Homo sapiens: one gene and its partners. The protein of the gene in region 2 interacts with the protein of the main gene of each other region in a pairwise test. Each region holds a gene or a part of one and is shown on either strand. Other genes may lie near its edges.

The links. The genes of interacting proteins can lie anywhere in the genome.
Region 1: the proteins of MUC1 (region 2) and ARV1 interact in binary tests that used the Homo sapiens proteins (3 or more experiments, as listed by UniProt).
Region 3: the proteins of MUC1 (region 2) and CYP4F2 interact in binary tests that used the Homo sapiens proteins (3 or more experiments, as listed by UniProt).

What each region holds. Positions count from the first base shown.
Region 1 is NC_000001.11:230,988,980-230,996,645, forward strand, and holds part of ARV1 (protein ARV1), read left to right. Parts: intron 1-1,130; coding exon 1,131-1,284; intron 1,285-1,596; coding exon of another isoform or gene 1,597-1,719; intron 1,720-6,780; coding exon 6,781-7,005; intron 7,006-7,666. UniProt on the Homo sapiens protein: Plays a role as a mediator in the endoplasmic reticulum (ER) cholesterol and bile acid homeostasis. Participates in sterol transport out of the ER and distribution into plasma membranes.
Region 2 is NC_000001.11:155,189,251-155,197,833, reverse strand, and holds the start of MUC1 (mucin-1 isoform 10 precursor), read left to right. Parts: upstream 1-4,918; 5' UTR 4,919-4,990; coding exon 4,991-5,048; intron 5,049-5,523; coding exon 5,524-5,926; coding exon of another isoform or gene 5,927-6,286; intron 6,287-6,527; coding exon of another isoform or gene 6,528-6,853; intron 6,854-7,182; coding exon of another isoform or gene 7,183-7,345; intron 7,346-7,346; coding exon of another isoform or gene 7,347-7,454; intron 7,455-7,631; coding exon of another isoform or gene 7,632-8,583. Other genes in the region: THBS3 (thrombospondin-3), read left to right, coding at 175-371, 621-793, 1,708-1,847, 1,935-1,993. UniProt on the Homo sapiens protein: The alpha subunit has cell adhesive properties. Can act both as an adhesion and an anti-adhesion protein. May provide a protective layer on epithelial cells against bacterial and enzyme attack.
Region 3 is NC_000019.10:15,880,523-15,888,188, forward strand, and holds part of CYP4F2 (cytochrome P450 4F2 precursor), read right to left. Parts: intron 5,787-7,666; coding exon 5,720-5,786; intron 5,532-5,719; coding exon 5,402-5,531; intron 1-5,401. UniProt on the Homo sapiens protein: A cytochrome P450 monooxygenase involved in the metabolism of various endogenous substrates, including fatty acids, eicosanoids and vitamins.

The DNA.
Region 1 (7,666 bases), about 76 Mb from region 2:
AACATACAGGACAGTCAATTAAATTTGAATTTCATATATACCATGAATTAATTTTTTAGTATAAGAATGTCCCAAATATTGCATGGAACATACTTATACAATAAAAATGGATTCATGGTGTGTGTGAAACTCAAATTTAACTGGCGGTCCTGTTATTTTATTTATTTATTTATTTTTGAGACGGAGTCTTGCTCTGTCACCCAGGCTGAAGTGCAGTGGCGTGATCTCGGCTCACTGCAGCCTCTACCTCCTGGGTTCAAGTGTTCTACTGCCTCAGCCTCCCAAGTAGCTGGGATTACAGGCACGCATCACCAAGCCCAGCTAATTTTTGTATTTCTAGTAGAGATGAGGTTCGCCATGTTGACCAGGCTAGTCTGGAATTCCTGACCTCAAGTGATCCTCCCACCTCAGCCTCCCAAAGTATTGGGATTACAGGCATGAGCTACTGTGCCCAGCTCTTCCTCACTTTATATTGATGGAGAAAGTTCAACCTGAAGGAGGAATACATAGAAAAAAGCCAATTTTTGTTGCCTAGTATTTTTTATTTTAGCCAAAATTTCAGACTTTTAAGAATTAGGTTTTAATTGTTCTCTTTTAACATATTGAGTCATACTCATCCAGCTGGAGATATTTTTAAAAAACTGATGTTCAGACTAATAGTTTCTTATTCAATATCATGGAATCTTCAGATTAAGTCTATTCTCTTATTGCTGTTCCCACATATACATGAATCACATAAGTTTTTTGCTTGATTCTGTATAAAGGACAGAAATCAAAAATGTATAATGAAAGGTGAACTATTATTTAAAGCAGTGATTCTTAACTAGGGGTGCACATTAGAATCCCCCCAGAACTGTTTCAAAGTATGATGTCTATGTTGTACTATGAAGATTCTCAATCAGGACCTGGGCTCAGACATTTAAATTTTGAAAAAAATCTCCCCATGTGCTTCTGATGGACATTGCTGATTAAAACTCACTGATTACAAAATGACTACAATTAGCCACTTAATTGGGCAGTCCTGAATTTGAAAAGTGACTAGGTGGGATGCCACAAATACTCTGTACCTGTTGATACTAGTGCAACTGGGTTTCCTTACCTAATTGAATGGCAATGTCTTTGACTATCAGATCCATGGAAAACTCTGCATATTTTGTTTGCTTTGTGAAGCATACCTGAGGTGGTGGCAGCTTCAAGATTCCAACCAGAATACTGCCCCTGATGACTTGATCAGATATGCTAAGGAATGGGATTTCTATAGAATGTTTGCGATTGCTGCTTTAGGTAAGGAGATGCCATGCTTTCCATTCTTAGTTAACTATTCTTACTTAACTAATCTGGTTAAAACTAAGACATGTAGTCTTAATTGTTGGTAAGAAGAGCTAGTTAATATGGGACTTAAGATGAAATTTTCAGCTCTACCACTACTAACCTACGAGGTGAGTGTGTTTGAATCACCTGCTTTTTAAAAATTTGTTACCACGTATATGGTATGGAAGTAGTTATGCTTATCGGATTAGAAAGTTTCATAAAATATTTCGAAGCACAATATTGTTGATAAAATTCTTTTATTTTTATTATTATATATTTTTTAAGACAGGGTCTCACTCTGTTGCCTAGGCTGGAGTGCAGTGGCACAGTCACAGCTCACTGCAGCCCTGAACTCCTGGGCTCAAGCAATCCTCCTGCCTCGGCCCCCCCAGGTAGCTGGAACCACAGGTATGCACCACCACACCATGCACCACCTCCAGCTAATTTTTGTATTTTTTTGTTGAGATGGGGGGTCTTTCCGTGTTGCCCAGGCTGGTCTTGAACTCCTGAACTCAAGCAGTCCTCCCACCTCAGCCTCCCAAAGTGCTGGGATTACAGGTGTGAGCCACTGTGCCTGGCCAATAAAATTCTTAATGTTTAAGTTTTGATTATCCAATCTGAAAGTTAGCTAAGTCCTATCTTTATTAATAGAGATAATTGCCAGACATTACCCAATGTATTGTACTAATTGCATTATACTAATGCAGTGTATTTAATAGGGTTTGGTATTTTTTGTTACTTGTTACTTATCTGAGTGCATGCAGGGAATTTGGCTACTCCTCAAAATTCCTTAAGTTCAGGAAGTGCTTTTCAGAATTTCACTTCATAAGTTATTGTTTTCCTAGTGTCAGAATTGTGTTGAGCTAATTTCTGTGACTATTTTATTGCTAGTTCCATGCTTCTCTGCTTCTCAACTCTTTGATTATAATGAAATCTTACTTTAGTAATACTAAGTCTCCAGTCCACTCCAATATCACATTTCTGGGCTGTGTGTCTTCTTTTGTCCTCTTTTTTTCTCTGTCTGCTCTCGCTCTCTTGGTCATGTAACCTGTCTGCTGAGAACTCTCAAATGTCCATCTAGACCTTTCTCCAGACCTCCAGACTCTGCATCCCTCTGCCTTCTCAACATCACCACTTGGATATCTAATAAATCACCATACCCATAATTGAGCTCCTCATCTCTCTGCCTCTACCACAGCCTTCTCCTTCTCAGTTGTAACTCCATTCTTTTAGTTGCATTCACCAGAAAACCTTGCAGTCATCCCTGATGCCTCTTTCTTTGATACCCCATAGTCAGGTCATCAGGAAATCCCATTGGCTCCACCTTCAAAGTACTTCTACTTTTTTTTTTTTTTTTTTGAGACGGAGTCTCACTCTGTCGCCCAGGCTGGAGTGCAGTGGCGCGGTCTTGACTCACTGCAACCTCTGCCTCCTGGGTTCAAGCAGTTCTCCTGCCTTAGCCTCCCGAGTAGCTGGGATTACAGGCACGTGCCACCATGCTTAGCTAATTTTTGTATTTTTAGTAGAGACGGCTTCACCATGTTGGTCAGGCTGGTCTCGAACTTCTGACCTCGTGATCCGTCCGCCTCTGCCTCCCAAAGTGCTGGGATTACAGGCATGAGCCACTGCGCCCAGCCACACTTCTACTATTATACTACTGCTACCCTCCATTCCCTCCACGGCTGCCACACTGTTGCAGGCCACTCTCATCCTTCACCTGCATGACTACAGTAGCCTCCTTGTTTGCTAGCCCAGTTCTCCAACTGTGTATTTGCACGCAACACAGAGTAGTCCTTTTCAACCAAATCAGATCATGTCACTGTTGTGCTAGAACACAGTAGCTCCCCGTTTCACTCAGAGTGCAAGCTGAAGTCTTTACAGTGGGCCTTGTACTGGAATCTGCCCCTCCCACTGCGTCTCTCATTTTATCCACAGCTGTCATCTCCCATGTCTACTCTGACCCTCCCCATCTAGTTAACTTGCTTCAGAAACACTGGATGAGCTTCCACCTTAAGGCCTTTGAAGTGGCTCTTCCTGTGCCCGGAATGCCTGTCCCCCTGATGCCCAGATGTCTGACTCCTGCATACCCCTCAAGAGTTGGCTAAAATGACACTTTCTAAATGAAGTGTACCTCTGACACTCCTGATCTCCTGTTCCGGCTCTACTTTGTTTTTCTTATGGTACTTACTATTTAACATATCACAGAAGTTATTATCTTTTGTTAGTGCCTTTCCCCACTAACATGTCAACTGAATGAGGTCAGGGCTCTTTGTGTTAGTCACGGTTGTAGCTCAAGCACTTAGGTGCCTGGCCCAGGTGCTTAATAAATATTTGCTCAGCTGATTGAATGAATGATTGCATACATTCATCCACGCACTCTTAACTTGAGCAAGTCACCATCAGTTACACTCGGTGATTATTCATTCACTATTCATTATTATTCATTCCCTTAAGAAATATTTTTAAATACTTATTAGGTGCCAGTTACTACTTTAGGTACTTTAGGTACTAGAGATATATCCATGGAAAATACATAGAAAAATCTCCGCCTCCATTATTATGTAATTACTAAGGCTTATGACAGCTTAACCGCCATGATGTCCAGTCTATCGATAATTTTGTATACAATTTGGACTTTGCAACAATTTAAAATATTTGAAATATACAAAAGAATATGTTAACCTTTTTATCTTATGAAACATAATACTACTGAAAACATCCTTGAGCACATCATCTAGCCCAAGAACTAGAACCTAATATGATTTTAAACCTTAAAGCAAAGCCTCTTAAAAATTTTTTTTAATTTTTATTTTTTTAAGAGTGAAGGTCTTGCTCTGTCACCGAGGCTAGGGTGCAGTGGCACAGTCATAGCTCACTGCAGCCTGGAGCTCCTGGGCTCAAGGGATCCCCCTGCCTCCGTCTCCTGAGTAGCTGGAACTACAGGTACATGCTACTGTGCCTGGCTAATTTAAAAAAAAAAATTTATGTAAAGGCAGTATCTTACTCTGTTGTCCAGGTTGGTCTTGAACTCCTGGGCTCAAACAGTCCTCCCATATGGGCCTCCCAAAGTGCTGAGACTGCAGGCATCAGCCACTGTTCCTGGCCCTTCTTAAAATTTCTAAAGATAAACTGTTATATGTCCATATTTTGTATATACTATTAAAAACCAGGCTTGTTTTTAAATGGGTTGGAATTCTTATAGCAACTACTCTGTAGTAGATATTTTGATGCTTAATCAGAAGTTTCTTTCTACTATTACTTAACTTTTTTATGTGTCTTAGTCTAATCCCTAATTAGACTGTATAGTCCAAAAGAATATCTTGGCCGGGCGTGGTACCTCACACCTGTAATCCCAGCACTTTGGGAGGCCAAGACAGGTGGATTACTTGAGCTCGGAAGTTGGAAACCAGCCTGGGCAACATGGCAATATTCTGTCTCTACAAAAAATACAAAAATTAGCTGGGCATGGTGGCATGTGCCTGTAGTCCTAGCTACTTGAGGGGCAGAGACAGGAGGATCGCTTGAGCCCAGGAGGTCAAAGCTGCAGTGAGTCATGTTCATGCCACTGCACTTTTGCCTGGATGACCAAGACAGACTCTGTCTCAAAAAACTAAAAGAATATCTTACATAAATAAAGCATTTTATAATTTAAAAACTGCTTTTACAGGAATTATTTAATTTTCACAATCATCCTCTGAGGTAGGTAGGTTAGGGGTTCCCCCATCTATAGCTGCAGAAACATAGATGCATAGATTTTCCCGAAGTCTCACAGTGGGTCACTAGTGCTGAAACTGAGGAAAGTCTCCCGACCCCCTTCAGTGTTTTCCACACTGGAGTATTCTATACGTAGGTAGCAGCTCCTTCTGAACTGACCTGATTGATGAGAGCCTGAGGGCTGGTGTAGTTCCATAAATCTCGTAAATCCTAAATTTAAAAGATGTGGAGGTTATCTAGTCTAGCCTGTGTGGCGCAAGAAATCTTTCTGTCTAGACTCCTGAGAGATGCTGTAGCTTTGAGTGTCTCCAGTGACAGGAGTCAACCCACCATTGTTAGATGGTTCTTGTTATTCGCTATTCTTTCACTATTTATTCATTCAAGGAATTATTTATTGTTATTTTTATCCAAAATCCAAGCTTTACAATCTACCTGAGTACATTCTTGTAGCTGACAAGTCTTTTAGTTATTTTGAAGGGAGATAGCATGTCTCCCTTGAAGAATACATCATATTTCATGGAGGTTAACCATCCTAATTTTTTTTTTTTTTTTTTTGAGACGGAGTCTCGCTCTGTCGCCCAGACTGGAGTGCAGTGGCACAATCTCGGCTCACTGCAAGCTCCGCCTCCCGGGTTCACGCCATTCTCCTGCGTCAGCCTCCCGAGTAGCTGGGACTACAGGCGCCTGCCACCACTCCCGGCTAATTGTTTTTTGTATTTTTAGTAGAGACGGGGTTTCACCGTGTTAGCCAGGATGATCTCAATCTCCTGACCTTGTGATCCGCCTGCCTCGGCCTCCCAAAGTGCTGGGATTACAGGCATGAGCCACCATGCCCAGCCCCTAAATTATTTTTATTGATCCTAATTACCTACATTTGGAACCTCTTTAGTTTGGCTTTATTAAGTTTAAAAAAGAGGATAGTTGTTTCTGCTGTAATATAATACATGTGTCCAGAGAAACCTGATTCTGCAGAAACCTAAACTGCTAATAACATAGCTTATATGGGAAAAAATAAAATAAGGGACTGGCCACTCAGAATGGATACAGTTGGGTAATCGGATGACTAACAATCCTAATAAAAATTACAGCACAGTTAAAAGAGATGTTAAATTCCTAGTTAATAGAAGCTGAACAGATTGTGCTGTGTTCTGACCATAGGACACAGTGGAACTATTGCTGCTGTTAATCTGGACTCTGTCCTATGAATACTTTCTGGAAGTGTAAGGAATTGCATTTTAAAATGTTGTTAAAATGAGTAAAGGAAGTCTCAGTTAACAATATTAAAAAATCATGTGGATAATAGGCACTTAAATAGTGGAAGAATGCACAGAGAAAAATGTCTTCCTGTGTTATCCCATTCTTACGATAGGTCCCATCTTTCAGACTGAAAAGCCTGCATTCTCCTGTTTTATTCTTTGGAGATCTCTTACACTGAAGATGTTTAAGCAGAATCTTACTTCCTTCAAGGAACTTCAGAAAGTTGATGATTACAATTCTAATGGAGTTACTTTTTCTTCAGTGGATAATGTTTCTGAAATTATACCAGCAGGATCTAATACAAAAGCCAGGGGTTTATTTAAAAAAAAAAAACAACACACAAACAAAAAGAAGAAGAAAAAGAGATTGTGATCTTGAGAAAGTATTTCTTATGAAGTCAGCTGATAAGCTGTATTTTAGAATGGTGGTTTATTTGTTTTTAAGGGGATATATTTTGGATGGGGACATTCATACTTTTATTTTCCATTTCTTCTTTAGAACAAACTGCCTATTTTATTGGCATTTTTACCTTCCTGTGGGTAGAACGGCCCATGACGGCAAAAAAAAAGCCCAACTTCATTTTGCTGCTGAAAGCATTATTATTATCTAGCTACGGAAAACTCTTGCTGATTCCAGCTGTCATTTGGGAACATGACTACACATCTGTGTGCCTCAAACTCATTAAAGTATTTGTTCTTACATCAAATTTTCAGGCAATTAGAGGTATGTTTATGTGTTTATTCTGCCTTCTCAGTTTTCAACCCATAAAAAGCTTAAAGCCTTGTTTCTGGGGTGCAGTTTTTATATAACCTGTTGAACACTGGAATTCTTCATCGCATAGTAATAATACCTAACACTTCTATAGCACCTTATACATAGCAGGTACTCAGTGTTTGTTACATTTAACCATATAGTACTTTATAGTTTTCAAAATGCTCTCATATGCATCATCTCTGTCCTGTGAGGTTAGTAGAACTGCCATTATTTGATTTTATGAATGAGCTCCTGGGGCTCTGAGGGTTAAGTGGCTTGTCCGACGTTACATGGCTGGGCAGTTATCAAGTCAGGAGAGAATGCTGAGTATCTGCCTCTCAATCCAGGACAATTTCTACTATATCAGGAAGAGCAGCCCTGTGTGTCTTCATTTTTCCCATATATTTTACATAGTGCTATTTTATTTATTTTTATTTTATTTATTTTTTTGAGATAGGGTGTCACTTGGTCACCCAGGCTAGAGTGCAGTGATGTGATCAGAACTCACTACAGCCTCTACTTCCTGAGGTCAAGTGATCCTCCCAACTCAGCCTCCTGAAAAGCTGGCCACAGGTATATGCCACCACACCCTGCTAAATTTTTGTAGAGACAGGGTTTCGACATGTTGCCA
Region 2 (8,583 bases):
TATAGGGGCAGAGGGTAGGGGAGGAAACAGACAGGGAGAATGGGCAAAGTGGCGAGAGAGAAGGCAGTGGCACAAGCTGGCCACATACATAGCAGGCATCCCTTCCCAACTTTACCCCATGATGGGCCGCCAGTAGCTTTGCTGCCCCTGACCTTTATCCCACCCCCACCCCAGGATACACGGCCTTCAATGGTGTGGACTTTGAAGGCACCTTCCATGTGAACACAGTGACTGATGATGACTACGCAGGCTTTCTCTTCAGTTATCAAGACAGTGGCCGCTTCTACGTAGTCATGTGGAAGCAGACCGAGCAGACCTACTGGCAGGCTACACCCTTCCGGGCGGTTGCCCAGCCCGGGCTGCAGCTCAAGGTCCCCAGCTGCTCAGATTCCGCAACCCAGGGCCCTTTCCCAAAGCTCTCCTCTGCAGCCCCAGGGCCTCCCCCACTGCTTGACTGGGAACCCTCTTACCCAGACATCTGGCTTGGAGGCCGGCTCTCTGGGGCCCCAGGGCATTTTCATGACCGCCTTGAATCCCTTTCCCACCTGCACTTACCGACCTGTTGTCTCCCCTCACTCCAGTTCTGCAGTTGACCCACTGTCTTTGCCAATGTCTCCTAGGCAGTGACATCAGTGTCTGGCCCAGGTGAGCACCTCCGAAATGCCCTGTGGCATACTGGCCACACCCCTGATCAGGTACGACTGCTGTGGACAGACCCACGAAATGTGGGCTGGCGGGACAAGACCTCCTATCGCTGGCAGCTTCTGCACCGGCCTCAAGTTGGCTACATTCGGTAAGGAGAGGGGCTGAGCCCACCTGTGGGACTCAGGCCGGGCCTGTCCTTCCTCTTTAGCTGGGATTCACCAGTGACCTCTCCATGGGTGGGAACTGCAGCCACTTCTCTCCATCACCCTTCTCACCACGGACACAAGCACCTATGAGTGATGTTGGTGAAGTCACTCCTCCATGACCCATTTTCCCGTCTGTAAAATGAGGGCATTGGGTTAGATGCCCTTTACAGTTCTCCAGAAGCCTCCAAACCCAGGCCAATCTGTGAAGGGGCACATCACATCTGGTCCCTTAGTTGGTATGACCTGGAACCTGTCTTATCAACGTGGATAGGGATCATCTGACCTGGAAGGCATCATCATTTACAGAAGAGAAAATCAAGGCCCTGACTTCACAGGCCTCGGTTCAACACTTTGTCCACAACTTTGCATTTCTCTCCAACAAGTAGCCCTAGTTGGTGGAGATGAACAGGAAGGGAGGGGAAATGGGTCTGCTTAGAGGCTGGACTTTCCATGGCCAAGAGCCCAGAGTCCAGGAACCTGGGTTGGTTCCCCTTTAAGGTGCCTGGGGCTGTGGGGTGCCAGGACAGGGGATAAAAGGGGGTGGACTAGAGCCTGGGAAGCGGGTGACTTCACCCCCCAGCCCATTGTGCTTATTGTCATGGCAACCCAATCCTCGCTTGGAATGCGGCTGGTGCTTTGAGATGCAAAAGGAGCTGGACAAAGAGCTAGGGGCCCCAGGCCTGAGAAAAGCACCCCCCTTCCCTCTCCTTCCTGCCTCCCTTTCCCTCCCTCCCTTCTCTCTCAGGCCTGGTGAGCTCAAGGGGGGCTGGGGAAAAGCAAGGCCCCAGGCATGGTGGCACAGTGCCCACTGGCACCCTAGCACCAATGGATACTCCTATCCTGGAATCCTGGACAGGGTGAAGCTCTATGAGGGACCCCAGCTTGTGGCGGATTCTGGGGTGATCATTGACACATCCATGCGAGGGGGGCGTCTTGGTGTATTCTGCTTCTCCCAAGAAAACATAATTTGGTCCAATCTCCAGTATCGATGCAATGGTGAGGTGGCTGATTGAGATCAACCTAATCCTTCATGCCTTGTGGGAGAGCCACATCCTCTGACCTTACTTATTTCCCCTTCTTCAGACACAGTGCCTGAGGACTTTGAGCCATTCCGGAGGCAGCTGCTCCAGGGAAGGGTGTGAGGAGGAGGCCACCAGATTCAGAATTCAGAATTTTAGACCCTTTGGCCTTGGGGTCCATCCTGGAGACCCTGAGGTCTAAGCTACAGCCCCTCAGCCAACCACAGACCCTTCTCTGGCTCCCAAAAGGAGTTCAGTCCCAGAGGGGTGGTCACCCCACCCTTCAGGGGATGAGAAGTTTTCAAGGGGTATTACTCAGGCACTAACCCCAGGAAAGATGACAGCACATTGCCATAAAGTTTTGGTTGTTTTCTAAGCCAGTGCAACTGCTTATTTTAGGGATTTTCCGGGATAGGGTGGGGAAGTGGAAGGAATCGGCGAGTAGAAGAGAAAGCCTGGGAGGGTGGAAGTTAGGGATCTAGGGGAAGTTTGGCTGATTTGGGGATGCGGGTGGGGGAGGTGCTGGATGGAGTTAAGTGAAGGATAGGGTGCCTGAGGGAGGATGCCCGAAGTCCTCCCAGACCCACTTACTCACGGTGGCAGCGGCGACACTCCAGTCTATCAAAGATCCGCCGGGATGGAGAGCCAGGAGGGCGGGGGCTGCCCCGCTAGGGGTAGCGGGGAGGCCGGGGGGCCGGGGGGGCCGGAGGCCGGGACGAGTGCAATATTGGCGGGGGAAAAAACAACACTGCACCGCGTCCCGTCCCTCCCGCCCGCCCGGGGCCCGGGATCCCGCTCCCCACCGCCTGAAGCCGGCCCGACCCGGGAACCCGGGGCGCGCTGGGGAGTTGGGTTCACCTTGGAGGCCAGAGAGACTTGGCGCCCGGAAGGCAAAGGGAATGGCAAGGGGGAGGGGGGAGGGAGAACGGGAGTTTGCGGAGTCCCAGAAGGCCGCTTTCCGACGCCCGGGCGTTGCGCGCGCTTGCTCTTTAAGTACTCAGACTGCGCGGCGCGGAGCCGTCGCCATGGTGACGCGTGTCCCAGCAACCGAACTGAATGGCTGTTGCTTGGCAATGCCGGGAGTTGAGGTTTGGGGCCGCCCACCTAGCTACTCGTGTTTTCTCCGGCCTGCGAGTTGGGGGGCTCCCCGCCTCCCCGGCCCGCGCTCCCGGGCGCGCTGACGTCAGATGTCCCCACCCCGCCCAGCGCCTGCCCCAGGGTCTCGCCGCACACAAAGCTGCGCCTCGGGCGCCGCGCGGCGCGCGGGCGAGAGCTGTGGTCTCTCGCCTGCTGATCTGATGCGCTCCAATCCCGTGCCTCGCCGAAGTGTTTTTAAAGTGTTCTTTCCAACCTGTGTCTTTGGGGCTGAGAACTGTTTTCTGAATACAGGCGGAACTGCTTCCGTCGGCCTAGAGCGCAGCCTGCGACTGCGGGACCCAAGTTCCACGTGCTGCCGCGGCCTGGGATAGCTTCCTCCCCTCGTGCACTGCTGCCGCACACACCTCTTGGCTGTCGCGCATTACGCACCTCACGTGTGCTTTTGCCCCCCGCTACGTGCCTACCTGTCCCCAATACCACTCTGCTCCCCAAAGGATAGTTCTGTGTCCGTAAATCCCATTCTGTCACCCCACCTACTCTCTGCCCCCCCCTTTTTTGTTTTGAGACGGAGTCTTGCTCTGTCGCCCAGGCTGGAGTGCAATGGCGCGATCTCGGCTCACTGCAACCTCCGCCTCCCGGGTTCAAGCGATTCTCCTGCCTCAGCCTCCTGAGTAGCTGGGGTTACAGCGCCCGCCACCACGCTCGGCTAATTTTTGTAGTTTTTAGTAGAGACGAGGTTTCACCATCTTGGCCAGGCTGGTCTTGAACCCCTGACCTTGTGATCCACTCGCCTCGGCCTTCCAAAGTGTTGGGATTACGGGCGTGAGCCACCGTGCCACGCCCGATCTGCCTCTTAAGTACATAACGGCCCACACAGAACGTGTCCAACTCCCCCGCCCACGTTCCAACGTCCTCTCCCACATACCTCGGTGCCCCTTCCACATACCTCAGGACCCCACCCGCTTAGCTCCATTTCCTCCAGACGCCACCACCACGCGTCCCGGAGTGCCCCCTCCTAAAGCTCCCAGCCGTCCACCATGCTGTGCGTTCCTCCCTCCCTGGCCACGGCAGTGACCCTTCTCTCCCGGGCCCTGCTTCCCTCTCGCGGGCTCTCGCTGCCTCACTTAGGCAGCGCTGCCCTTACTCCTCTCCGCCCGGTCCGAGCGGCCCCTCAGCTTGCGCGGCCCAGCCCCGCAAGGCTCCCGGTGACCACTAGAGGGCGGGAGGAGCTCCTGGCCAGTGGTGGAGAGTGGCAAGGAAGGACCCTAGGGTTCATCGGAGCCCAGGTTTACTCCCTTAAGTGGAAATTTCTTCCCCCACTCCCTCCTTGGCTTTCTCCAAGGAGGGAACCCAGGCTGCTGGAAAGTCCGGCTGGGGCGGGGACTGTGGGTTTCAGGGTAGAACTGCGTGTGGAACGGGACAGGGAGCGGTTAGAAGGGTGGGGCTATTCCGGGAAGTGGTGGGGGGAGGGAGCCCAAAACTAGCACCTAGTCCACTCATTATCCAGCCCTCTTATTTCTCGGCCCCGCTCTGCTTCAGTGGACCCGGGGAGGGCGGGGAAGTGGAGTGGGAGACCTAGGGGTGGGCTTCCCGACCTTGCTGTACAGGACCTCGACCTAGCTGGCTTTGTTCCCCATCCCCACGTTAGTTGTTGCCCTGAGGCTAAAACTAGAGCCCAGGGGCCCCAAGTTCCAGACTGCCCCTCCCCCCTCCCCCGGAGCCAGGGAGTGGTTGGTGAAAGGGGGAGGCCAGCTGGAGAACAAACGGGTAGTCAGGGGGTTGAGCGATTAGAGCCCTTGTACCCTACCCAGGAATGGTTGGGGAGGAGGAGGAAGAGGTAGGAGGTAGGGGAGGGGGCGGGGTTTTGTCACCTGTCACCTGCTCCGGCTGTGCCTAGGGCGGGCGGGCGGGGAGTGGGGGGACCGGTATAAAGCGGTAGGCGCCTGTGCCCGCTCCACCTCTCAAGCAGCCAGCGCCTGCCTGAATCTGTTCTGCCCCCTCCCCACCCATTTCACCACCACCATGACACCGGGCACCCAGTCTCCTTTCTTCCTGCTGCTGCTCCTCACAGTGCTTACAGGTGAGGGGCACGAGGTGGGGAGTGGGCTGCCCTGCTTAGGTGGTCTTCGTGGTCTTTCTGTGGGTTTTGCTCCCTGGCAGATGGCACCATGAAGTTAAGGTAAGAATTGCAGACAGAGGCTGCCCTGTCTGTGCCAGAAGGAGGGAGAGGCTAAGGACAGGCTGAGAAGAGTTGCCCCCAACCCTGAGAGTGGGTACCAGGGGCAAGCAAATGTCCTGTAGAGAAGTCTAGGGGGAAGAGAGTAGGGAGAGGGAAGGCTTAAGAGGGGAAGAAATGCAGGGGCCATGAGCCAAGGCCTATGGGCAGAGAGAAGGAGGCTGCTGCAGGGAAGGAGGCGGCCAACCCAGGGGTTACTGAGGCTGCCCACTCCCCAGTCCTCCTGGTATTATTTCTCTGGTGGCCAGAGCTTATATTTTCTTCTTGCTCTTATTTTTCCTTCATAAAGACCCAACCCTATGACTTTAACTTCTTACAGCTACCACAGCCCCTAAACCCGCAACAGTTGTTACGGGTTCTGGTCATGCAAGCTCTACCCCAGGTGGAGAAAAGGAGACTTCGGCTACCCAGAGAAGTTCAGTGCCCAGCTCTACTGAGAAGAATGCTGTGAGTATGACCAGCAGCGTACTCTCCAGCCACAGCCCCGGTTCAGGCTCCTCCACCACTCAGGGACAGGATGTCACTCTGGCCCCGGCCACGGAACCAGCTTCAGGTTCAGCTGCCACCTGGGGACAGGATGTCACCTCGGTCCCAGTCACCAGGCCAGCCCTGGGCTCCACCACCCCGCCAGCCCACGATGTCACCTCAGCCCCGGACAACAAGCCAGCCCCGGGCTCCACCGCCCCCCCAGCCCACGGTGTCACCTCGGCCCCGGACACCAGGCCGGCCCCGGGCTCCACCGCCCCCCAAGCCCACGGTGTCACCTCGGCCCCGGACACCAGGCCGGCCCCGGGCTCCACCGCCCCCCCAGCCCACGGTGTCACCTCGGCCCCGGACACCAGGCCCGCCCCGGGCTCCACCGCCCCCCCAGCCCACGGTGTCACCTCGGCCCCGGACACCAGGTCCGCCCCGGGCTCCACCGCGCCCGCAGCCCACGGTGTCACCTCGGCCCCGGACACCAGGTCGGTCCCGGGCTCCACCGCCCCCCAAGCCCACGGTGTCACCTCGGCCCCGGACACCAGGCCGGCCCCGGGCTCCACCGCCCCCCCAGCCCACGGTGTCACCTCGGCCCCGGACACCAGGCCGGTTCCGGGCTCCACCGCCCCCCCAGCCCACGGTGTCACCTCGGCCCCGGACACCAGGCCGGCCCCGGGCTCCACCGCCCCCCCAGTCTACGGTGTCACCTCGGCCTCGGAGAGCAGGCCGGACCCGGGCTCCACCGCGCCCGCAGTCTACGATGTCACCTCGGCCCTCGGAGAGAAGGACGGACCCGGGCTCCACCGCGCCCGCAGCCCACGGTGTCACCTCGGCCCCGGACACCAGGCCGGCCCCGGGCTCCACCGCCCCCCAAGCCCACGGTGTCACCTCGGCCCCGGACACCAGGCCGGCCCCGGGCTCCACCGCCCCCCCAGCCCACGGTGTCACCTCGGCCCCGGACACCAGGCCCGCCCCGGGCTCCACCGCCCCCCCAGCCCACGGTGTCACCTCGGCCCCGGACACCAGGCCCGCCCCGGGCTCCACCGCGCCCGCAGCCCACGGTGTCACCTCGGCCCCGGACACCAGGCCGGCCCCGGGCTCCACCGCCCCCCAAGCCCACGGTGTCACCTCGGCCCCGGACACCAGGCCGGCCCCGGGCTCCACCGCCCCCCCAGCCCACGGTGTCACCTCGGCCCCGGACCCCTGCCGGCCCCGGGCTCCACCGCCCCCCCAGCCCAGTTTTCCAACCCCGGACACCAGGCCGGCCCCGGCTCCACCGCCCCCCCAGACACCAGGCCGGCCCCGGGCTCCACCGCCCCCCAAGCCCACGGTGTCACCTCGACCCCGGACACCAGGCCGGCCCCGGGCTCCACCGCCCCCCCAGCCCACGGTGTCACCTCGGCCCCGGACACCAGGCCCGCCCCGGGCTCCACCGCCCCCCCAGCCCACGGTGTCACCTCGGCCCCGGACACCAGGCCCGCCCCGGGCTCCACCGCGCCCGCAGCCCACGGTGTCACCTCGGCCCCGGACACCAGGCCGGCCCCGGGCTCCACCGCCCCCCAAGCCCACGGTGTCACCTCGGCCCCGGACACCAGGCCGGCCCCGGGCTCCACCGCCCCCCCAGCCCACGGTGTCACCTCGGCCCCGGACACCAGGCCGGCCCCAGGGCTCCACCGCCCCCCCAGCCCACGGTGTCACCTCGGCCCCGGACACCAGGCCGGCCCCGGGCTCCCCCCCCCCCCCAGCCCACGGTGTCACCTCGGCCCCGGAGAGTTCCGCCCCGGGCTCCACCGCGCCCGCAGCCCACGGTGTCACCTCGGCCCCAGAGAGCAGGCCGGCCCCGGGCTCCACCGCGCCCGCAGCCCACGGAGTCACCACGGCCCCGGAAAGCAGTTCTGGCCCGGGCTCCACCGCGCCCCCAGCCCACGGTGTCACCTCGGCCCCGGACACCAGGCCGGCCCCGGGCTCCACCGCGCCCGCAGCCCACGGTGTCACCTCGGCCCCGGAGAGCAGGCCGGCCCCGGGCTCCACCGCGCCCGCAGCCCACGGTGTCACCTCGGCCCCGGAGAGCAGGCCGGCCCCGGGCTCCACCGCCCCCCCAGCCCACGGTGTCACCTCGGCCCCGGACACCAGGCCGGCCCCGGGCTCCACCGCCCCCCCAACCCACGGTGTCACCTCGGCCCCGGACACCAGTCCCGCCCCGGGCTCCACCGCCCCCCCAGCCCACGGTGTCACCTCGGCCCCGGACACAAGGCCCGCCCCGGGCTACACCGCGCCCGCAGCCCACGGTGTCACCTCGGCCCCGGACACCAGGCCGGCCCCGGGCTCCACCGCCCCCCAAGCCCACGGTGTCACCTCGGCCCCGGACACCAGGCCGGCCCCGGGCTCCACCGCCCCCCCAGCCCACGGTGTCACCTCGGCCCCGGACACCAGGCCGGCCCCGGGCTCCACCGCCCCCCCAGCCCACGGTGTCACCTCGGCCCCGGACACCAGGCCGGCCCCGGGCTCCACCGCCCCCCCAGCCCACGGTGTCACCTCGGCCCCGGAGAGCAGGCCGGCCCCGGGCTCCACCGCGAGAGCAGCCCACGGTGTCACCTCGGCCCCGGAGAGCAGGCCGGCCCCGGGCTCCACCGCCCCCCCAGCCCACGGTGTCACCTCGGCCCCGGACACCAGGCCGGCCCCGGGCTCCACCGCCCCCCCAGCCCACGGTGTCACCTCGGCCCCGGACACCAGGCCGGCCCCGGGCTCCACCGCCCCCCCAGCCCACGGTGTCACCTCGGCCCCGGACACCAGGCCGGCCCCGGGCTCCACCGCCCCCCCAGCCCACGGTGTCACCTCGGCCCCGGACACCAGGCCGGCCCCGGGCTCCACCGCCCCCCCAGCCCACGGTGTCACCTCGGCC
Region 3 (7,666 bases), on a different chromosome or scaffold from region 2:
GAGGCTGAGGCAAGAGAATGGCTTGAACCTGGGAGGTGGAGGTTGCAGTGAGCTGAGATCACACCACTGCACTCCAACCTGGGCGATAGAGACTGCATCTCAAAAAAAAAAAATCAATTTTAATACACATTCTTAAAAGTAAATATTTTTAAAGAATCCAAAGAAAAAGAGCAAAAAAATAAAGGAACCACTTCCATAAAAAGAAACAAACATCAACACGTGAAAGAGATGTTCAACCTCACTCTTATTTAAAACAATGTCCATCAAAAGAAGAAATATGAAGATTGGCATAGATTTTAAAATTTAATAATACATTAGTAGTATTGGTAAAGTTATGGGAAAACTTGTGCCATCAAACTCAGCTAATAGGAAAGGATTTGCAATGATAATTAAAATTGTACAGTGCAAATGTTCTTTGATTCAGCAATTGCACTTCAGGGAATTTGTCCTGCAGAGATGCTTATACATGCAAGGAATGGTCACTGTGCACACATGCTGACTGCCTCATGTCCACTTTTAGCAAAAGGTTGGAAACAAGCCACATACACATTGATGGGAAGATGTTTAGATAAACAGCCACACGATGGAATACTATACAGCTACACAAAAGGAGGAAATAGGGATCACTAGTCTCATCACATTCTGCAGGCTGGAAGGTAAATCAGTACAGACACTGTGGAAGGCAAATTGGAAATATCTACTATAACTGAAAATGTTTATGTGCATTCAACATAGGAATGAGCTGAATAAATAAGGAATAAAATATTTAGCATTCAGAAAAAAATAGCATTAAGACACACTGTCGAGTGAAAACAAGTTACAAATATATACATTTGTGCACATAAAAAGGGCAAAAAGTATATGAATATATATTTATGAAATTAATGATTCAGAGATAGATGATAGATTGATAGATGACAGATAATAAATAAGAGATATAGAGAGATAGAGAATAGACAGATACATACATAGATGATAGAAACAGAGATACATAGATGATATATAGATAGTAGATAGGTATATAGATACATAGATAGATGATGGATAGATAGATAGATAGATAGATAGATAGATAGATAGATAACAAATCTATGGCTCTGGAGACACCTTTGGAGAATGAGAAAGGATTAGGTGGGGTGGCAGGATTGTCAAGGAAAAAGCTAGTCTTATCTGTAATATCTCATTTGGTGCAAGAAGAATCTGTTCTTATCACTGGTTTTATAATTTAATGCTCATTTTCCATGTGGTGTGTATATACAATGGAATACCATTCAGCCTTAAAAAAAAAAAAAGAAAGAAAACTTATTTTGTTTGCCACAACATGAAAGAACCTGGAGGAACTTATGCTAAGTGAAGTAAGCTAGGCTCAGAAACACAAACACACATGATCTTACTTATCTTGGGACCTAAAATAGTCAAGCTCATAGAAACAGGAGTGGAGGTCGGGCGCGGTGGCTCACGCCTGTAATCCCAGCACTTTGGGAGGCCAAGGGCGGCAGATCACAAGGTCAGGAGTTCAAGACCAGCCTGTCCAATATGGTGAAACCCCGTCTCTAATAAAAATACAAAAAAATTAGCCAAGCGTGGTTGCGGGAGCCTGTAATCCCAGCTACTCAGGAGGCTGAGGCAGGAGAATCACTTGAACCTGGGAGGCAGAGGTCGCAGTAAGCTGAGATCGTGCCACTGCACTCCAGCCTGGGTGACAGAGCGAGACTCCATCTCAAAAATGAAAAAAAAAAGAAAGAAAGAAAAGAAAAGAAATAGAAGCAGAATGATGGTTACCAGAGGCCAGGGCTGAGGGAGGGATAGAGAAGGGTGAGATGTTGGTCAAAGGATAGAAGCTTCAGTTAGACAAGAGGAATAGTTTTTGAGATCTACTGCACAGCATGGTGATTTAGTGAACAATGTATTAATTGAAATTGCTAAGAGAGTAAATTTCAAATGTTCTCAACATAAAAATGATAAATATATGAAGTGATGGATTTGTTCATTACCTTGATTTAATAATTTCAGGTTGTATACATACATCATAACATCACATTGTACCTCTAATATATATATGTTCTCAACATAAAAATGATAAATATATGAAGTGATGGATTTGTTCATTACCTTGATTTAATAATTTCAGGTTGTATACATACATCATAACATCACATTGTACCTCTAATATATATAATTAAAATTTATCAATGAAAGAACAATTTAAAAACAAACTCATTTTTGAAAACTCGTATTTTAAGAAAAATAGATCTCAGAGATAATGTCCAGAACTGCGTCTATTTTGTATAGTTTTCTTTACAAAGAAAAACACAGTATGTGTTCATATAAATAAAAATCACAGTGTGAATTCATATAAATGTGGGCATTGGGATAGCCATTTTCTGGAAGAATACACAGAAAACTGTTGACCATAGTCACTGCTAAGGTGGAGCTTAATAAGGAAGCTCATTTTTATCATAAAATTTTTTGGACCCTTTCTTTTAACCACATCCATAATTTTGCTTGAAATCTGGATTTTATACTCCAGGACATGGGTCCAGGCAAAGATTTTCTGTGTTAAGACCTCAAAAGCACAGGCAATAGACAAATGAGATTACATCAAGGTAAAAAGCTTCTGCACAGCAAAGGAAACAGTCAACAAAGTGAAGAATCAACTTACAGAATGGCAGAAAATATTCTCAAATTACTCATCTGACAAGCGATTAATAACCAGAATATATTATATAAGGAGCTCAAATAACTCAATAGGGGAAAAAGAACTCAAATCATCTTATTTAAAAATGGTCAAAAGATCTGAATAGACATTTCTTAAAATAAGACATACAAATGGCCAACAGATAGATGGAAAAATGCTCAATGTCACTAATCATCAGAGAAATGCAAATCAAAACCACAATGAGATATCATCTCATCCCAGTTAAAATGGCTTTTATCAAAAAGACAGGCAACGATAGACACTGGTGAGGATATGGAGAAAGGGGAACTCTCACACACTGTTGGCAGGAATATAAATTAGCGCAGCCACTGCAGAGAACAGCACAGAGGTTCCTCAAGAAACTAAAAGTAGAACTAACATATAACCCAGAAATTCCACTACTGAAAAGAAAGAGAAGAAATTTCTATCCCAAAGAAAGAAAATAAAACTGTTGAAGAGATATCTATACTTCCGTATTTATTGCAGCACTATTCAAAACAGCCAAAATATGGAATCAACCTAAGTGCCCATCAACTGAATGGATAAAGAAAATGTGGCGGCCGGGTGCGGTGGCTCATGCCTGTAATCCCAGCACTTTGGGAGGCCGAGGCAGGCAGATCATGAGGTCAGGAGTTCGAGACCAGCCTGGCCAATATGGTGAAACCCCAGCCCTATTAAAAATACAAAAATTAGCCAGGCATGGTGGTGTGCACCCATAGTCCCAGCTGCTTGGGAGGCTGAGGCAGAAGAATAGCTTGAACCCGGGAGGCAGAGGTTGCAGTGAGCCAAGATCGTGCCACCGCACTTCAGCCTGGGCGACAGAACAAGACTCTGTCTCAAAGAAAGAAAGAAAGGAAAGAAGAAAGAGAGAAAGAGAGAGAGGGAGGGAGGGAGGAAGGAAGGAAGGAAGAAAGGAAATGTGGCATGTATACACAATGGAATACTATGCACCATTAAAAACACTGGAATTTTGTCATTTGTGGCAACATGGATGGAACTGGAGGTCACTGTGGTAAGTAAATAAGCCAAAAAGAGAAAGACAAATATCGCATGTTCTCACTCACATGTGGGAGCTGAAAAAGTGGATCTCATGAAAGTAGAAGGTAGATTGGTAGAAGGGAGGGAGGGGTGAGGAGAAGTTGATTAACGGGCATAAATAAGAGGTTTGATAGGAGAAATAAAACCTAGCACTTGATAGATCAGTGGGTTCACTATAGTTTACGATATGTACTGTATATTCCTAAATAGTTAGCTTATGTTAGTTATGTTTCTAGCATAAAGAAAAGACTAAATATTTCAGGCGACAGATATCCCAAGTACACTGATTTGATCTTTACCAGTTATATGAATGTATTAGATTATCACATGTATTTCAAATCTATGTGCATCTATTTATGCAGCAATAAAAAATTGTTTGTTAAAAATGCAGAAAAATTATTGGTTTTAAAAGCAGAAAAATGTTTCTCCTCCTCACTGGACTGCTGTGCTGGGCAAAGGTGTGGACGAGAGGACACTGAATCCAAGACATCCGTCCATTCCAATGCTTCCTCTCCTTCCTCCAGCCCCTGGCCTGGCTCTGGTCTCAGAATGTCCCCACTGTGCCTTCATTCTACAGCTGGTCCTCTCCAGTACGCCCTCCACACTAGCCCTAGAAAGATCTTCCTGGTACCCAGATGTGACCTGTCCCTACACTGCTCAAACACTTCCCATGGCTCCCTATTGCCATTGGGCTAAAACTGAAGCCATTAACATTTTCCCCAAGGCTTCCACAGCCAGCCCCTGCTACCATCTCCGGTTTTATCATCTCATTACAACTCAGTCTCTCCCTCTCTCTCCCCTTCTCCTCCTTTCTGTCCTGACCCTGCTCTCTCTCTCTCTCCTTCTCTCTCTCTCCCTCGCTCTCCTCTCTCTCTTCCTCCCTCTCTCTTCCTCCCCCAAAGACCCCAGGCAGTCTTCTTGACCTAGAGCACTGCCCCCCAACTGTACCCAATTATCTACTGATCATTATTTAGGCTCTCAACTGAGACACTTTCTATACCCCCTAGTCCTGCTTCTCTTACTGTAAATCCCATCTCTGCCCATGTGGGCTGGGAGTGTCCTGCCCAGGGACAGCTCCACCACCAGGCTGGGAGCACCTGGAAAACAGATCCCTGGGTTGGTTCCTTCCCAGGTCTCCAGAGCACAGAAAGATGCTGTGCACAGATGTGGGGGTGAAAATGCAGTGTGGGAGTGTTTGCTGAATAAGGATGGGACGGATGAACAGTGCAAGTGTTCCGGACAAGAATGGATGAATTTTACCCCTAGGTCTCCCTTATAAAACCCTGGACTCGACTGGAGAGTAGGAATTAGGGAACAGAAGAGCAAACATTCAAGAAGTGAAGATGTTCAAAAAAAATGATATTTCTGGGAGGAAAGGAAGAGAGTGGAGGGGAAGTTCATTTGCTGAACACGTCTAAGTGGCGTTATCTGTCCTCACATATCATCACCAACTCTCTCAGAAGCCCAGGTCTTTCTGTCCTAAGGGCCTATAACCTTTCCCCAGACAGTCAGGATGGGTACTAAGTCCTGCCTGTGGTCCTCTGCTCCTATTCCCACTAGGCAATAGTGGCAGAATCAACAAAAACAGCTTTTCCTCCCCTCCCCACCTGGGGAGCAGAGCCAATGAGAAGGTCTCAGGAAGAGGCCACAAGCACCTGCACTCACCATTCAATCTCTTTAGGCTCACGGTCCTTCAGAAGTTCTTGCACCTCCTGCCGGCAGCGCTCCTGGTATTCTGGGTGCTTTGCAAGGTGGTACAGGACCCAGGAGAGACCACTGGCCGTGGTGTCATGGCCTGGGGGGCAGCAAGGCAGGCTTGGGTCTCTGGGCTGCTTCAGCACCCGAAGGTAGACAGCACCCATGCATTGAGGGCCTCAGGGAGGATGGGGGAAGGGGGATGGGAAGGTTGTGGGGGTCTACCCACCCTGTTCCTGGAAGGGAGAGATCCCGGTCCCCTCTCTAGCCCCACACTGGGGCCCTCACCCTCAAACATAAAGGTGTCAGCTTCTGCTCTTATGTCCTCATCAGATAACTTCTTCCCGTCTTCATCCTGGAGAGAAGGCAGTAACCCCCCCCAACCCCCACCCCCATAAAAAGTCACACTAGCTCTAAGGGCTCTTGAGTCTAATCTGAGACAGTCTCTGAAGATTCATCCTTTTTCCAGAAATCCAAGTCCATCTTGCACTCCTAGACCCCTCTTGGTCACCATGGCCAGAGCCCTCACCTCATGGCCTTCCTCTCTGGCTTCCTTGCCTCCTCTTGGGTTCCTACTGGGAAGACTCAATGACCCATGAATATTTTAATGAAAAGTTTCTGAGAAAAAGTTACTGGCAACCTGAGTTACAGGAGAATTAAATGGCAATTTCCCTTGGAAATTAGAGATTAAGTATTGCTTCAAAGATTTGCCCACATTCTAGAGTGATAAATCTAGAGAATCTTATCCCCCTGGAGACGTTTGGGTTGTAAGGCTAAGGACTATGGCATCTCACTGAAGAGGATTTGTTTATGCTCCAGAACAAAGCACACCATCTCTCACAAAGCTACCATTCTCACTCAATCTCTCTCTCTCTCTTTCTCTGTCTCTCTCATTCTCTTTCTTGGGAAGAAATAGAAAATGTGCCAAGACTCATAATGTAGGGCCCCTCTCTTAGGATGCAAACTCTGCTGCACATACAAGTGAAAACATTACCCTTGGAGAAATTTGACTTGAGGATGAAGAGCCAGTGCCACAATCCCACTCTGGCTAACAGTATTGCTGTGAGCAAGACATGGGCTGCTCTGATCTAGAGGTTTAATGCATCTGTCACAATAGACCTACACATAGACAAAGACATAGACACAGACACAAACACACATAGACAAAGTCATAGACTTAGAAACTGACACAGACACACAAATACACATAAACATAGACATAACACAGATATAGACACAGACACACACACATAAAGTCACAGACTTAGAAACACAAACACACAAATACAAATAAACATAGACATAGACACAGATATAGACACAGGCACACACATATAGACTAAGTCACAGACTTAGAAACACAGACACACAAATACACGTAAACATAGACATAGACACAGATATAGACACAGACATACGCACACATACACAAAAACACAGACTTAGAAACACAGACACACATAAACATAGACATAGACACACACACACATAGACAAAGTCACAGACTTAGAAACACAGACACATAAATACACATAAACATAGACATAGACACAGATATAGACACAGACACACACACATAGATAAAGTCACAGACTTAGAAACACAGACACACAAATACACGTAAACCTAGACATAGACACAGATATAGACACAGACACACACACACATAGACTAAGTCACAGACTTAGAAACATGGACACACAAATACACATAAACATAGACATAGACACAGATATAGACACAGGCACACACATATAGACTAAGTCACAGACTTAGAAACACAGACACACAAATACACGTAAACATAGACATAGACACAGATATAGACACAGACATACACACACATACACAAAATCACAGACTTAGAAACACAAACACACATAAACATAGACATAGACACAGACACACGCACACATAGACTAAGTCACAGACTTAGAAACACAGGCACACAAATACACATAAACCTAGACATAGACACAGATATAGACACAGACACACACACACATAGACAAAGTCACAGACTTAGAAACACAGACACACAAATACACGTAAACATAGACATAGACACAGATATAGATATAGACACAGACACACACACACATAGACTGTCACAGACTTAGAAACATGGACACACAAATACACATAAACACAGACATAGACACAGACACAAACACACATAGATGAAGTCACAGATTTAGAAACACAGACACACAAATACACATAAACAAACATAGA